Linked DNA regions of Homo sapiens: region 1 is linked to region 2. A link means that fine-mapping ties the variant in region 2 to the expression of a gene that starts in the linked region. Tissue or cell type: whole blood. Region 2 holds a variant in brackets; the other region holds the start of a gene. All regions are shown on one strand. Distances are between the middles of the regions.

Region 1 (8,085 bases), 49 kb before region 2:
GGTGTCCAGCGCCCTTAGGTCATTTTCTCACTGCCTGGGAACCTCACCAAAATACTTCTTGCTTCCTTGGGGTCAGCCCAAAGCTGTCACAAAATCAGATATTTCCCTTTATTCCAGATTTCCTGGACACTTTCACCCAATTATAAACACCCCACTTCAGCCCCAATCACGTGGGAGGAAGTGTAACTTCCCTTTTCTGGATTCTCAAGCAGTTACTTTCACGGTCAGAACACGCAGCTATTATGATTGAAAACTTAAAAGGGCAACAATTTCAGTCTTGCTTCTAGGGCTAGACAGGAACTTGGCAAACATCTGTGGCCTGTTCAGCAAAGGATGTTAATATTTAAGAATCTTGTCTTGGGCTGGGTGTGGAGGCAAGTGGATCACAGGAGGTCAGGAGTTTGAGACCAACCTGGCCAACATGATGAAACCCCATCTCTACCAAAAAAAATACAAATCAGCTGGGCGTCGTGGTGTGCCTGTAGTCCCAACGCAGGAGGTTGAGGGGAGAATTGCTTGAACCCAGGAGGTGGTGGTTGCAGTGAGATTGAGCAACTGCAATCCAGCCTGGGCGACGGAGTGAGACTGTCTCAAAAAAAAAAAAAAAAGGATCGTCTCAACCTTTGCCCTCCTACTGCAACATTTTGGTATTTGAAATGAAGGGACCTTCCATACTTATGCTGTTAATACTTTCATTCTCACTAGGGATGAAGCACATTCCTAACCTGCTTCCTAATGGGGATGCTTCGCCAGCCAGGTCCTCACCTGTGTGTACACCAGCAGGACACTGATCCAGTCACAGCCATACAGCTGTCCACACTGAAGAACATGTCCTACAACAGCCTGAATCAAATGGTTAGCTTAATAGATAAAAATCCCAGACTACTTCAGCCTTTAATGCCTTTTATTCATAAAAACTGTGAAAGCTAGACTGAACCATTGGAAACATTTAACTCAGACTCTGGATTCAGAGTCGGGAACCCTTAGTTCTATCTGAATCCAAGACAGCCACACCTTAGTATACTGCCCAAACTAATGAGTTTAATAAATACAAATACTCGTTTCTTTTTGATTAGTGTGATTAGAACTGAACAACGGCACTTAAGGAATCTGGAAGATAGCCTGGATAGATTTCTGATTCATCCCAAGACCTCAAAGACAACACCTGGGTACCAAATTTCTTTATTTGAAGGAATGGTACAAATCAAAGAACTTAAGTGGATGTTTTGGTACAACTTATAGAAAAGGTAAAGGAAACCCCAACATGCATGCACTGCCTTGGTGACCAGGGAAGTCACCCCACGGCTATGGGGAAATTAGCCCGAGGCTTAGCTTTCATTATCACTGTCTCCCAGGGTGTGCTTGTCAAAGAGATATTCCGCCAAGCCAGATTCGGGCGCTCCCATCTTGCGCAAGTTGGTCACGTGGTCACCCAATTCTTTGATGGCTTTCACCTGCTCATTCAGGTAATGTGTCTCAATGAAGTCACACAACTGCAAAACAATGGGGAAGACAGTTAGTGGGCAGCTTTCCCAATCCCTAAGGCAAATGATTTCCTCCATTTATTTCCTGGGGTTCCAATACTCACATGGGGGTCATTTTTGTCAGTGGCCAGTTTGTGCAGTTCCAGTAGTGACTGATTCACATTTTTTTCCAAATGTAATGCACACTCCATTGCATTCAGCCCGCTCTCCCAGTCATCACAGTCTGGTTTCTGAATGAGAATAGGTTAATGCATCTCTACCAACTAACCTAGAAGTCAGCAAGCCCATCATCTCTAACCACCACGTTTTGGCAAAAGGGACATTACTATTTGCCTAATTTAGTTTAGATGGTAAGCCTAAAAAAGCACAAAAGGCAAAAGCCCAGTGTATCATCACTTTATAAGGGCAATTGCTAGTTTAAGTGATTTCTGATACCCGAACACTGCCAGATGATGAAGTATGACACCCCTAGGATCTTTTGTTCACCTTGATATCCTGAAGGAAGATTCGGCCACCTCGTTGGTTCTGCAGCTTCATCAGTTTCTCAGCATGTTCCCTCTCCTCATGAGATTGGTGAAGAAAGTATTTGGCAAAGTTCTTCAAAGCCACATCATCGCGGTCAAAGTAGTAAGACTGAAAGGGGAACACTGAATGTGTTATACTAGGGATCCCCAGAGACAGGTAGCTGTGACGATCTACAGGGAGGCAAGATGGTCTCGTCAGCCTAGGCTTCCTTTCTCAAAGCACAGCATGAAGGAATCAGTGCCTAAGGAGACTGGGGGGCAGATGAGCTACTGGATTGAACCCAAGAGTAATGTTTCTATTCTAAAATAGAAAACTGAAACTTGATCCTTGAAACTTAACTTCAAGGAACCTTTAGGATATTATGGGCATTGCCTGGGGCAATGTCTTAAGGATCTGTATTACTGCACAGAAAACTTACAGCCAGTGTCAGAATTCATTGTCTGATGAGAGGGCGCTGGAGTACTGACCCTGCACTTAGTCCTTTTCTCCTCCCTGCTCCTGTATTAACCATGTTAAAGCATGGTTAAAACTGAGCTCAGGAGTCTGCCAGCTGTACCACATATTTATTTATAAAATTAAAAACCCCTGCTGGGTGCGGTGGCTCAGCCTGTAATCCCAGCACTTTGGGAGGCCGAGGCAGGCGGATCACGAGGTCAGCAGATCGAGACCATCCTGGTCAACATGGTGAAACCCCGTCTCTACTAAAAATAAAAAAAAATAGCTGGGCGTGGTGGCGTGCGCCTGTAATTCCAGCTACTCAGGAGCCTGAGGTAAGAGAATCACTTGAACCCAGGAGGCGGAGGCTGCAGTGAGCCGAGATCGCGCCACTGCACTCCAGCCTGGGCGACAGAGCGAGACTCTGTCTCTCACACACACACACAAATTAAAAACCCCCATGCAAGGTGGCAAATGTGGACAGTATGTTGATGTAAACATACTTTTATAATAGTTATATCACAAAAATTTGATTTTCAGTTTTAGACATTTGATGTAGTCAAGTGTTTGTGAAAGGCAGTGACAGTCACAGAAATACAGGCCTGTTTTCAAATCCATTTGGAACACATTTATTCTTGGGATAGTTTGGACAATCACAAGGCAATTCTAAGGAAGACTCCCACGACACTGCCTAAGACCAAGATTTGGGAAAACTGATTCCACTGATCACTGAAAAATTTCTTGCCCAGTAACTGTCGGTGGACTTTATCCAAGAACTGGGGGTTCAATTAGTAGGCCAAACTCCACACCTCTTACAGTAAGATACATAAAAGATAAATTAGGTCCCCTAGGCGCAAGGTCAGGTGACACTTCGGTGACTGCAGAAGGGGCGATTCCTAGAGATATGCTTCAAAGCAAGTGGGACTTAGAGATAAGCAGAGCCGAGAGGTGGATACGGCTGCTCGAGAGGGATCTACCCACAAGATAAGCCACCTCCCGCCAGCCCCCAAGGTTTGCTATTCGACACCGTTACCCAGCAGCTCCGCCACACACAGGCGGACGGGAGCTGGATACCTAAGCAAAAAACGCTGGCATTTAGGGCCAAATGCCGGAGGCAGAGGAAAAGATGGGAAAGCAAAACTCCACCTTCCTAACCGCAGGATTGATCACACAGGCTGGCAGTCTTGCAACCCCAGGATTTCAGGACACCAAGGTCTCCTTAAAAAAGAAGGGTGTGCAGAGGCGGCCCTGGCCTAGGAGGGAGCATTCTCAGGGTACAGCCGAGAAGAACCAGCTGCCCCGACTTTCTGCGCCAGAGAAGTCCTCGGAAACCTCGAGCAGCCTCCATTTTCCAGAAGGGCGCAGGGAGGCGGGAGAGCCCGCGGGTGGCCACACCCCCGGCCCGCCCCAGCGCGCGCCCCGGGAACCGCGCCCGGCCCCCGCCACCGCTTAGGCCCGCCCGCGCTCACCATGGACAGGTAAACGTAGGAGGCGTAGAGCTCCAGGTTGATCTGGCGGTTGATGGCGGCCTCTGAGTCCTGGTGGTAGTTCTGGCGCACCTGCGAGGTGGACGCGGTCGTCATGGCGGCGACTAAGGAGAGGCGGCGGCGGCGGCGGTGGCTGCGCGGCGCTGGAGCGGCGGCGGGGGCCTTGGGGCAGTCCGAGGGTGCGGTGAAGAGGTGACGGAGGGCTGGCTATGGGCGGCCGGCCGGGGTGGGGAACGAGCGCCGGGTTCCGTCCAAGCACTGTTGAAGCAGGAAACCCCGACGACTCTCGGCGAAGAACGTCTGGCCCTGCGGGTCGCTTGTGGTCTCTTATAGCCGCGTCGGCGTCAGGCCCGCCCCGGCCAATCAGCGCCGCCCGCCCCGAGCCCGCTCCTTCCGGTGGGCGCGGGACCCCGCCCCTGCTGTGGGGGAGGGGCGGCCGCTGGAGGCCCTCGCGCGCTCTGGCGGAGCTCGGGAGCGGGGACCGGTAGCCGACTGCCTCTGGGACAGCGGTGGCGTCTCTGTGCCCGTTTAGTGGAGTTGGAGGGAAGCTGCGAGGAGGCGCAGGAAGTCCACCTCAGAACCCCCCCCCCGGTCTAGGGGCGCCCGGGCGTTGGAACCGGCGGGGGAAGGGTGCGGGGGCGCATGGGGTGATCCTGATTCGGCTCCCATTTTCCCGAACGGGCACCCTGAGGCTCCTGGCCCGGGGCATGGTGTTAGAAATCATAGCTGCGGAGAAGCCCTTGTGACACCTTGCTGCAGATTGGGAAGCTGCAGATGATTGGGAAGGTGGAAGGTGGAGACGCGGTCCTTAGGTGGTCGAGCGCATTTTCTCTTCCTCAGAGTCCAGGAAGGAGCGCGATGGAGAAGTGGGGCGCACGGCGGGTTTCGGGTCCGCCCCTGCCCTTCCGACTCCTCCGACCACGTCTGCCTTTGGCTGAAAGCAAATATGGCTCCGTGTGCGGTTTCTGCAACAAAGGCTGGGCGGGCCGGGTTTCCCTAGGGATGGGGACCGCCTCCCCGGGGAGTCGTGGGGGTGAGCCACCGGGGCCTCCGAGAGAATCGCTGGTGTCGCTTCGCACCCAAGGGACACATCTCGGGTTAGAAAGGAGAAACGACGTGGATCTAAAGGCGAAGCCCATGCTGAGGACTTTTCAAAATGGCCTCTTATCGGCCCCACTCACAGGAGCTTCAGGCTTCGGTGGCCCTGTAGGACAACCCTGGGGTGTCATTGGAGAGAAGCTGACGGGGTTAATGGCGGGTGACAGGTGAAAGAGACCCCGGAGGGGTGGGGCCGGTGTGTGTGGCTAAGCTGAGTCCCAGGCACAGGGTGGATGTGAATTTATGGGTGGCAGAGCTAGAGCTAGGCCCTGCCCTTACCTAGGTCCTGGCTTCGAGGTCCACTGTTCTGTCGCGTCTTTTGACGCATCGGTGGAAGAACTGAATTTCAGGATGCTCACAAACCTGCAGCTGGAAGCTAGACTTCCAAACCTTAGTTTAAAAAAGCAACTCTACTGAAATACTAAAATAAATTGCCGACGGAATTAGGGTGATTTCTTGTTCACGGTTTCATTTAAAAATGCACCTATGTTATTTACAGGAAAAACGTTTTAGTGGTGCTAGAGCTACAAGAATAAGGTAAACAGAAGGATGCTGCTAGACCAGGAGTACCTTACCCAGTCTGGGATAGGAGGAGGTCGGGGAAGCCCTCCCTAAGCAAGACACGTGAGCTGAGTTTGAAGAAAAAGTTAAAAGGAAGGTGAAGTGCGGGAGAGAAACAGGGAAGGGAATTTGGAGCAGAGTGAACAGCATATGCAAAGGTGTGGAAATGTGGAAATGCATGGCCTGTTAAAGCTGCCTTAAGAAAATATGTTGCCTGGGGCTGGGCGCGGTGGCTCATGCCTGTAATCCCAGCATTTTGGGAGGCCGAGGCGGGCGGATCACTTGAGGTCGGAGTTGGAGATCAGCCTGGCTAACTAACATGGCTAAACCCTTCTCTACTGAAAATACAAAAATTAGCCGGGCGTGGTGGCATGCGCCTGTAATCCTAGCTATTCTGGAGGCTGAGGCAGGAGAATCGCTTGAACCTGGGAGGCGGAGGTTGCAGTGAGCCGAGATCGCGCCTTTGCACTCCAGCCTGGAAGACAAAACAAAACTCCGTCTCAAAAAAAAAAAAAAAAAAGAAAGAAAGAAAGAATGTTGGCCTGGAAAGTACAGTTTATGTTGGGGGATGCTGGTTAGGGTGGAGAATAGGGGCAAGATCGGGCAGGGTTGTGTTCCATAAAAAGAGGTTAAACTTGATCCTAGAGACAGCATAGAGACACCTCATTAGCTTTGTTTTTAGAAACCTTACACTGGGAATCTCTTAGGATAAGAGTATAGCAAAGTCACCATATATAGGATCCAAAGCTTTCCTTTATAACAGTAACCACCAGTTAGAAAATATGGGGAAAAAAGAATGGAAAAAAAAATGTTTTTCACTTACATTGACAACAAAAGCTTAAAGTACCTTGGAATAAAGTTAACAAGAAATATATAGAAAAAACTATAAATGCTTACTGCTGGACAAAAAATTCAAAAAGCCTAGCATAAATGAAGAGGTACCATATTCCCAAATGGTCGGTCAATCTTCATTCTGTAAAGATGTCAGTTTCCCCAAATAAGCATAAATTCACTGCAATTTCCATAAGAGGCAGTTTTTTGTTTTTGTTTTTCCTCAGCCATTACTGTCTCTGGGACAGTATTTTTTTTTTTTTTGAAACTTCACAAAATGATTCTAAAGTTCATTTGGAGGAGTCAGTGTGTTGATAGATTTGCATTTGGTGCTATAATAAAGGTACAGTAAAGTGCTATAAGCAGTATGGTACTGGCACAGGAAGAGATGACTAGATTAATGCAACAAAATAGTCCTGCCCCCCTATTATGAGAACTTGGTATATGCTAAACTGTTGTGTCACATTAGGGAAGAAAGAATGGGTTTAACAAATTATGTTGAAACAATTGACAGTCATGTGGAGAAAAGTGACTCACTCAGTATTTAAAAATACATTCCAGATAGATTAAAAATCCAAGCCTTAAAAAAAGTATAAAGTTTTGAGAAGAATATATACAAGATTATTTTTATAATTTTGGGGTAGGGAATGTTCTTCTGAGGCTGTCAGAAGCCGTAAAAGTACAGTTGGCAGGTTTGCCTATTTAAAAATGAAAAGCTGTAAGACAAAAGATGTTGTAAACAAGGTTAAAACAGAGATGACAAATTGGGATGATATTTGTAGCTCATGTAAGTGATGAAGATTAGGAACTATAATATATATTTGTATGTTTAATGAAGTACTATGTATGTGTCACACCTTTTTTTTTGAGATGGAGTTTTGCCCTTGTTGCCCAGGCTGGAGTGCAGTGGCTTGATCTCGGCTCACTGCAACCTCCACCTCCCGGGTTCAAGAGATCCTCCTGCCACAGCCTCCCAAGTAGCTGGGACTACAGGTGCCTACCACCACACCTGGCTGATTTTTGTGTTTTTAATAGAGACGGGGTTTCACCATGTTGGCCAGGCTGGTCTCGAACTCCTGACCTCAAGTGATCCACCTGCCTCGGCCTCCCAAAGTGCTGGGATTACAGGCATGACCCACCGCACCTGGCCTTATGAGACCCTTTTGATTGCCTGCGCTGGTGCTGTAGATGGTAAGCTCCTGGAAGGCAGGCATTGTTTCTGTCTTGTCTCTGCACTCCCAGCTTTTTGCAAATTGCTTGTTACTTGGTGCCCAGTATCTGTTGCATGAACAGATGGATTCATGATTGAATGTGGAGGATGGATGAGAGTGAGGCTAGAGGGCTGGGCACCAGTCAGGAGGCAGCAGCCTTAGTTATTAGTGAGCAGAGAAGATAGAACACAGATTTGACAGATCTGGAGAAGATCAAATGAACAGACTGATTGGCGAAAGTCGGGGGCCAGGGGTGGGCAGTGTGTAAGAGATCTCTCAGCTTTATGATTTGGTAGGCCTGGCTGCTGCTGCCATTCCCTGAGCCAAGGAGCACAGGAGGAAATGAAGGTTTCGGGGAAAGCCCTTGGGGAAGGCCTGCTTGGTTTTGGACTAGATGTGCTGAGTTTCCAGGCTTCCGGGATGTCCAGGGGGACAAAGCCAGCATGAAGCTCT
Region 2 (8,102 bases):
TGAGAGAAGACCCCAGGGAAAAAGTAAATGATATCAGACTCCTTGAGGGGCAGGGAGAAGAGATAGACCTCCTCCAGGGACTTGATCTTCATGTCCTTGACCAGACGGCCCAGCTTGGTGACGGGCATCCACTCCTTATCCTCAGCCTTGCCTCTGAGAGCTCCATAGCCTTGGAGCTCTCATGCCCCTGGCTCCAACCCTGGCCGTGACCTCAGCCCCAGATGCCAGTGCCGAAGCCTCTGCAGAAGCTGCCACTGTTCCTCATCCCAGGGCCTCTGGGCCTCCCACTGCACTGTGTCATCTGCCATTTGGTGTTTTCTTGGAGAAGAAGCTCTGTCATCTTCTTACATGAGCAAAGTAAACATCTATGTCTCTCCCACATTGTTGGTCATGTTTTCTGTTACTTGCAGCTGAATGCATTCCTGTGCCATCAATCATGTCCACTTTAGAGATAAACAGGGCATCGAAAAAGGGGAGGTCTTCCTTTGGAGCCAGCTTCTTGTTTCTTGGAACTGGAGATTCAGGTGGAGGAGGAGAAAAGTCCCTCTGCCTGGGGGTTGAGCTGGGGATGAGGAGTGGAGTTTCCGGCAGAGAAGTCTTGGGGTAAGGCCAATACTCGCTCTTCCATGACAGAGCCTGAGGATCTTCCCTGGCCCCAGGTCCCAGGCCTTGGCTGCATGAGGAGTCACAAGATGCCTCTCCTGAACCAGGGAGTTCTCCCTAACACTGATGGGCACTGGTGGGCAGGGAAGAAGACAGCAGTAGCCATGGGTGGTGACTCAGATCACAGACCTGGCTCCAGTCCCTGCTCTGCCACGAACTGCCTGTGTGTCCCAGTGCCCCAACCAACTCCCTTAGGGCAAGGACTCTGAGCCCTCATCCGTGAATAGGACTCTCTGTGTTCACAGGGAGCCTCCTGCCCCAGGTCCCCTGGCCTCTGAGCTTCTTCTCAGAAACGTGAGTAAATCCTGGCAGGTGAGGGACCCAGGGGGAGCAATAGAGGGCTTTGTGTCACAGCCAGGAGTCAGCAAGTGCCCAGTCTGCAAGCATCCAATCTAACAGGAGAGTCCTCCAGGCATGTGGCTTCCTGAGGGCTAGGTCCAGTGGGGGTGGGGATGGGGGGGGTAGTAAGATTCTGCTGTGAGCAATGCAGAGTAAGGAAAGGATCCAAGTTCCAAGGACCGTGGCTTTGCTGCCAGCTGACCCCTTCCTCCCCACCTGCCAAATACTCCCCCAAGTCCCCCATCACCCCATTGCTTCCTGCTTTCCGCTGATGGGGCAGTCAGCATGGAGGCCAGGCTTGGCACCGCAGGAGGGATTCCGGAGCGCTGGTAGTCCTGCACGCTGGAAAGGCTTTTCTCAGGAGTCTTCCCTGGCTCCCTGGGAGGCTGAGCTGCAGGGAAATGCCCAGTGTGCACCCCGCCCGCCAGCTTTCCTGGAACCTTCTGTAGAGTGAGCCAAGAAAGAATCTGCCCACAGGGCCCTGGGGCTATAAATTCTCTCTTTTCCCTGCTCCTGGAGATGAACCAGGAAGAAAGCTCATGCCTCTTCCCTGGGTGGATGCTCTCAATAACAATAACAAGGCCCAGTGTGGTGGCCCATGGCTGTAATCCCATCACTTTGGGAGGCTGAGGCAAGCGGATGGCTTGAGCACAGGAGTTTGAGACTAGTCTGGCTCTACAAGAAATACAAAGAAAATTAGCCAGGCGTGGTGGCATGCGCTTGTGGTCCCAGCTACTCAGGAGGCTGAGGAGTTCGAACCAGAGCAACTCCATCTTGAATAGGGGCTGGGTAAAATAAGGCTGAGACCTACTGGGCTGCATTCCCAGGAAGTTAGCCATTCTAAGTCACAGGATGAGATAGGACGTCAGCACAAGATACAGGTCACACAGACCTTGCTGATAAAATGGGTTGTAGTAAAGAAGCCAGCCAAATCCCAACATAACCAAGATGGCAACAAAGTGACCTCTGGTCATCCTCGCAGCTCATTATACGCTAATTATAATCATTAGCAGGCTAAAAGACATCCCACCAACGCCATGACAGTTTACAAATGCCATGGCAATATCAGGAAGTTATACTATACCTACACTGTCTTAAAGTATACCCTATACTGTCTTAAAAGGGGAAGAACCCTCAGTGCTGGAAATTGTCCACCTCTTTCCCGGAAAACTCCCGGAAAAGAAGTAATAGGCCGGGTGTGGTGGCTCAGGCCCGTAATCCCAGCACTTTGGGAGGCCGAGGCAAGCAGATCACGAGGTCAGGAGATCGATACCATCCTGGCTAACACGGTAAAACCCCATCTCTACTAAAAATACAAAAATGAGCCGGGCGTGGTGGCACACGTCTGTAGTCCCAGCTACTCGGGAGGCTGAGGCAGGAGAATCGCTTGAACCCGGGAAGCGGAGGTTACAGTGAGCTGAGATCAAGCCATTGCACTCCAGCCTGGGTGACAGAGTAAAAATAATTAACTATAAGTATTATCAGTCGAGCAGCCCAAGCTGCTTCTCTGTCTATAGAGTAGCCATTCTTTAATCCTTTACTTTCTTAATAAACTTGTTTTCAATATACTCTATGGACTGGCACGGTCCAAGAACCCTTTCTAGGGGTCTGGATTGGGACCCCTTTCCAGTAACACAAACATGTTTTTTCCACTGTACAGCATTTAAAACCAAAGATATTGCTTCCAATAGATACTCTCACAATCCATTTTAGTGAAGGTTCCTCAGGGAGCTGATGACACAAATCTACAGAGTGCGGGTTTGTAGATTTGATGATCTACATAATGGAACAGTGCTTCACACTGTGCTCTCTGGTGTTAGTAGTTAGTTGGTTTTGCCTTCCCTGACATTGGCTACCTTCTTGGTAACCACAGGTCTCAGAGATATATCTGTTGCCCTGGCATAATTTTTCACTGAACTCCACAGGGAGAGGGTCTATGAGGCATGTCTGGCCTTCCTTCCTGTCCTGGTCAGGAATTCAGGTTTTCAGGTTTTTCTGGGGTCACCTTGGCCAAGAGGGTCTATTCAGTTGGTTGGGGGCTTAAGATTTTATTTTTGGTTTATAAATCTAACAAGCACGGCTGGGCGTGGTGGCTCACACCTATAATCCCAGCACTTTGGGAGGCTGAGGAGGGTGGATCACCTGAGGTCGGGAGTTGAAAACCAGTCTGACCAACATGGAGAAACCCCGTCTCTACTAAAAATACAAAATTAGCCAGGCGTGGTGGCGTGTGCCTGTAATGCCAGCTACTGGGGTGGCTGAGGCAGGAGAATCGCTTGAACCCAGGAGGCGGAAGTTGCAGTGAGCCGAGATGGCGCCATTGCACTCCAGCCTGGGCTACAAGAGTGAAACTCCATCTGGAAACAAACAAACAAAAACCCTAATAACCACAATAAACATATAATCCCTTGGTTGTTGCCATCTGTGATAGTTAAAACGAAAGTGAAAGGAAGTGCTGGACCCTGAGGCTGGACCATGCTCAGATGTGGGTCTGCCTGAACTCAGGTCACTAGTCTCAAAATGACTGCTGGCTGCCCTTTCTTATCACTGTGCAATGGACGGCTCTCAGTTAACAATGACTCTAAGCCACTGGCATTTTCAGGGCATCTCCGTAGTCACATGGTGGTCTACAAGCATATAAAAGGTGAACCACACCACTCCACATAAAAGCAACGGACCAGCCGGGCACAGTGGCTCATGTCTGAAATTCCAGCACGTTGAGAGGCCAAGGTGGGATGATCCCTTGAGCCTGGGAGCTCAAGACCAGCCTGGGGAACATAGTGAGATTCCCGTCTCTACAAAAAATTAAAAAAATTAGCACCTGTGGTACAAGTGGTGGATCAGTTGAGCCCAGGAGAGCAAGGCTGCAGTGAGCTATGATGGCGCCATTGCATTCCAGTCCGGGCAACAGAGTGAAACCCTGTCTTAAAAAAAAAAAGAAAAAGAAAGAAAGTGATTGACCACCCTGAGATTTCCTGTGGGTGGCAAGCCACCCAGGCGCTGAGGCAAGAGACCGAGGACACGAGCTGTTCCAGTATAATAAAATATAAAACAAGAATAGTTATACCAGATATAGATCTTAGATATGATTATATATGATTATCATTAATCATTAATTTGTAGCAATTACTCTTTATTCCAATATTATAATAATCCTCGCTCTATAATCATAACCTAGGAAAAACCAGGCCATACAGAGATAGGAGCTGAGGGGACATAGTGAGGTGTGAACAGAAGACAAGAGTGTGAGCCTTCTGTTATGTCCAGACAGGGCCACCAGAAGGGCTCCTTGGTCTAGCGGTGATGCCAGCGTCTGGGAAGACACCCGTTGCCAGGCGGACCGTGGTCTAGCGGTAGCGAAAAGTGTCAAGGAACAACACCCGCTACTTAGCAGACTGGGAAAGGGAGTCTCCTTTTCCCTGGGGGAGTTTAGAGAAGACTCTGCTCCTCCACCTCTTGTGGAGGGCCTGACATCAGTCAGGACTGCCTGCAGTTATCTGGAGGCCTAACCGTCTCCCTGTGATGCTGTGCTTCAGTGGTCACGCTCCTAGTCTGCCTTCATGTTCCATCCTGTACACCTGGCTCTGCCTTCTAGATAACAGTAGAAAATTAGTGAAAGTACTAAAAGTCTCTAATATGCAGAAATAATGGCATAAGCTGTCTTTCTCTTTGTCTCCTCTCTCTCTCTCTGCCTCAGCTGCCAGGCAGGGAAGGGCCCCCTGTCCAGTGGACACGTGA[C/A]CCACGTGACCTTACCTATCATTGGAGATGACTCACACTCTTTACCCTGCCCCTTTTGCTTTGTATCCAATAAATAACAGCACAGCCAGACATTCAGGGCTACTACCGGTCTCCGTGAATTGGTGGTAGTGGTCCCCGGGGCCCAGCTGTCTTTTCTTTTATCTTTTTGTCTTGTGTCTTTATTTCTATACTCTCTCGTCGCCACACACAGGGAGAAGCCCACCGACCCTGTGGGGCTGGACCCTACAATTTCCCAGACGGATGATTCATTCCCTTCACCCATTTCTTGATCTCTCAGCTCCTGGCCCAGCTGGCTTGCCACATGCTCTGTGGGGGGCAGGCCTTTGCAAACCTATCCCCAGAGTCTAAGGAAGCTGAAAGGCCAAAGAAAGAGGCTGACCAATCTAGTTTCTTAGAAAGAAACGTTTAATAGGAACTTAGAAGCCATGTCTGAGTCTCGGACAGCAGCAAGACAAGATGGTGGACTGCCGCCATTATTCCTTTGCTTTTTTTTCTTTTTTTGAGACAGGCTCTCACTCTGTCACCCAGGCTGGAATGCAGTGGTGCCATCATTGTTGTTCACTGCAGCCTCAATCTCCTGGGCTCAAGTGATCCTCCCACCTCAGCCTCCTAAGCGGTTGGGACTACAGGCATGCATTATGACACTCAGCTAATTATTTTATTTTTTGAAGAAATGGGGTCTCACTTTGTTGCAGTGCCTGGTCTCGAATTCCCGGGCTCAAGTGATCCTCCCACCTCGGCCTCCCAAAGTGCTGGGATTATAGCTGGGATTATAGGCGTGAGCCATATCATGACTGGCTGATATGATTTCTTAAAGCGGGAGCCAGACGTCCAGGGAGGACATCTCTTTGACCCAGGATGGCAGAGCTGGCCTTCCTGAGTCCTGGATCCCCACTCCTATGCTTGTACTAAGTCCAGTCAGCTCTCTCTAACTTCAGCAGGAAGTAAAGATGCAAAAGCCTCGAGGCACCAAGAGCCCTGCCCTGCATGGTATCAGCACCCTATCACCGTGGCCTGGGGTCTAACTGCCTAGGCTTCCTCTTCTGGGACTTGCCAATTAAAAGGCTGATTTTCCAGAAGGTTGACACCCGAGGTTTTTTTTGTTTTTTTGTTTTTTTTTGAGACGGAGTTTCGCTCTTGTTGCTCTTGTTGCCCAGGCTGGAGTGCAATGGCGATCTCGGCTCAGTGCGATCTCGGCTCAGTGCGATCTCGGCTAACCACAACCTCCACCTCCCAGGTTCAAGCAATTCTCCTGCCTTAGCCTCCCAAGTAGCTAGGATTACATGCATGAGCCACCACGCCCGGCTAGACACCCAAGGGTTCTAATCCCTCACCCTATCCCCTCAAGTTCCTTGTTCTGCTGCCTAGAGGTCACAGTGGCTTCTGACCTCCAAGCCAATTCAGCAGCTGTTGGCTGGGCACTTGCTCTGCAATAGTGCTGGGTTCTGGAGGGGACAGACTATGTCCTTTTGGCAATGCCATGCCCTACTCTTCTTAGAAGCTTACAGTTTATTAGGAGAAACTACAGCATGCACCCAGCCAGCCACAGGACAGGCAGCAAGTGATTGTAGCAGGAGGAATCTGAGAAGGCATGTCTAACTGATTCATTCACTTACAGCCCCAAACTTATTTCCCATCTGCCCACGTCGATTCTAAACCCTGAAAATGTAGTCCTTTGTCTTTAAGGAGCAAAGAGTCTTCCTAGAGAGACAGAAACACGAATAAAAAATGTACTAGCGGCCGGGCGCGGTGGCTCACACCTGTAATCCCAGCACTTTGGGAGGCCGAGGCAGGTGGATCACCTGAGGTCAGGAGTTCGAGACCAGCCTGGCCAACATGATGAAACCCCATCTCTACTAAAAACACAAAAATTAGCCAGGCATGGTGGCGCCTGCTTGTAATCCCAACTACTCAGGAACCTGAGGCAGGAGAATCGCTTGAACTTGGGAGGCGGAGGTTGCAGTGAGCTGAGATCTTGCCACTGTAGTGAGATTCTGTCTCAAAAAAAAAAAAAAAAAAAAGTACTAGCCATGTCAGGAGTGTTGGTAAGCAGGAGCTTCCTGGAGGGGGAGGGACATGGGACTAGAAAGGAAGGAGAAGTGATATTGCATAGACCTAGCTCCAGTTCCAATATGGCCTTGGGATTCAAGGTCAGAGAAAAGAGAAGGGGGAAGAAAGGGCAGATTGACACAATGTTATTCAAACCTGAGAAAGAGGTAAGAGAGGAGAAGAGATGAAAGCTAGAGACAAAAGGGAAGTGTGAGGGGAAACATGAGGGTAATGAACAGTAACCAAGATGAGGTCAAAAGAAGATGATCAAGCAGAAAGAAAAGCATCTGAGAATAATGGGGCCTGTGGCCAAGAACAAAGGCCCCAAAGCCAGCACAGTCTCCTGGGAAGCAGTCATGCTTTCAGCCCCCAGGACTGGGTTACCCAAAGGGGACTGAGAACTCCTGCCAAACACAGTGACAAGCACCCTGCCATCTGGCTGGGCCAAGAAATAGGGCTCTATGGCTATCCAAATAGTCACTTAATGAAGACTTTTGACTTAATGAATTAGTGGGCTTTCTTAAACAAGTGACATGTTCAGGGACTTTGACTCCAGCAGGGATGTGCAGTCGCCAGGCCACTGAGACCACTGCAGGTGTTCGCCAAGGCAATTCTGGACTTTGGAGTGTCCTGGTTAAAAATAAAATGGTCAGAGCCTACTTTAGTTGTCTGTATTTCACTGTTTTTTTTTTCTTTCTGAGACAGAGTCTCACCCTGTCACCCAGGCTGGAGTACAGTGGTGCAATCTTGGCTCACTGCAACCTCCGCCTCCTGGATTCAAGTGAGACTCCTGCCTCAGCCTCCCAAGTAGCTGGGATTACAGGCACATGCCACCACGCCTGGCTAATTTTTGTATTTTTAGTAGAGACAGAGTTTTGCCATGTTGGCCAGGCTGGTCTTGAACTCCTGACCTCAAGTCATCCACTTGCCTTAGTCTCCCAAAGTGCTGGGATTACAGACGTGAGCCACTGCACCTGTATTTCACAGTTTCTGAAAGCCATATTTTATCTGGGCCAGAGTGACAAGGGACAGTAGGACACCCTGGTTAAAGTGCAGTCTCTGTGCTTGGGCAGCCTGGGTTTATATCCCTACTCTGTTACTTACTAATGGTGAGAACCTTAGCCTCTATATTATACTCCACGAAATGAGTACAATAATATTACCCACCTCATAGAGTTGTGGATATTAAATGAGTGAAATACATGCTAAGTGCTTAGAATAGTGCCTGGCACATAGAAAGTGCTCTCTCCATGTTAGTAATTGTGACTTATTAGAATTCATAAGCATGGCTG

What was found. PIP is the estimated chance that this variant, and not a neighbour inherited with it, causes the effect.
Region 1: FTH1 starts here. The variant in region 2 is fine-mapped to the expression of FTH1 in whole blood (TOPMed, PIP 0.93).

The regions. Positions count from the first base shown.
Region 1 is chr11:61,963,399-61,971,483 of GRCh38, forward strand. FTH1 (ferritin heavy chain 1) reads right to left here and starts at 4,236. Exons shown (of 4, transcript NM_002032.3): 1 at 3,914-4,236; 2 at 1,971-2,117; 3 at 1,589-1,714; 4 at 887-1,493. The coding sequence starts at 4,027. The coding sequence ends at 1,329. BEST1 (bestrophin 1) reads left to right here. Exons shown (of 11, transcript NM_004183.4): 11 at 706-1,063. The coding sequence ends at 724. LOC399900 (a long non-coding RNA gene) reads left to right here and starts at 3,896. Exons shown (of 1, transcript NR_187560.1): 1 at 3,896-5,481. RefSeq lists enhancers at 2,242-2,471, 5,103-5,172, 5,293-5,342 and silencers at 3,763-3,962, 4,233-4,582.
Region 2 is chr11:62,012,318-62,020,419 of GRCh38, forward strand. It overlaps the pseudogene RPS2P37. Among named protein-coding and RNA genes, the nearest start is that of FTH1, 49 kb to the left of the region's middle. RefSeq lists an enhancer at 1,104-1,604. The variant C/A (reference allele first, on the strand shown) is at 4,741.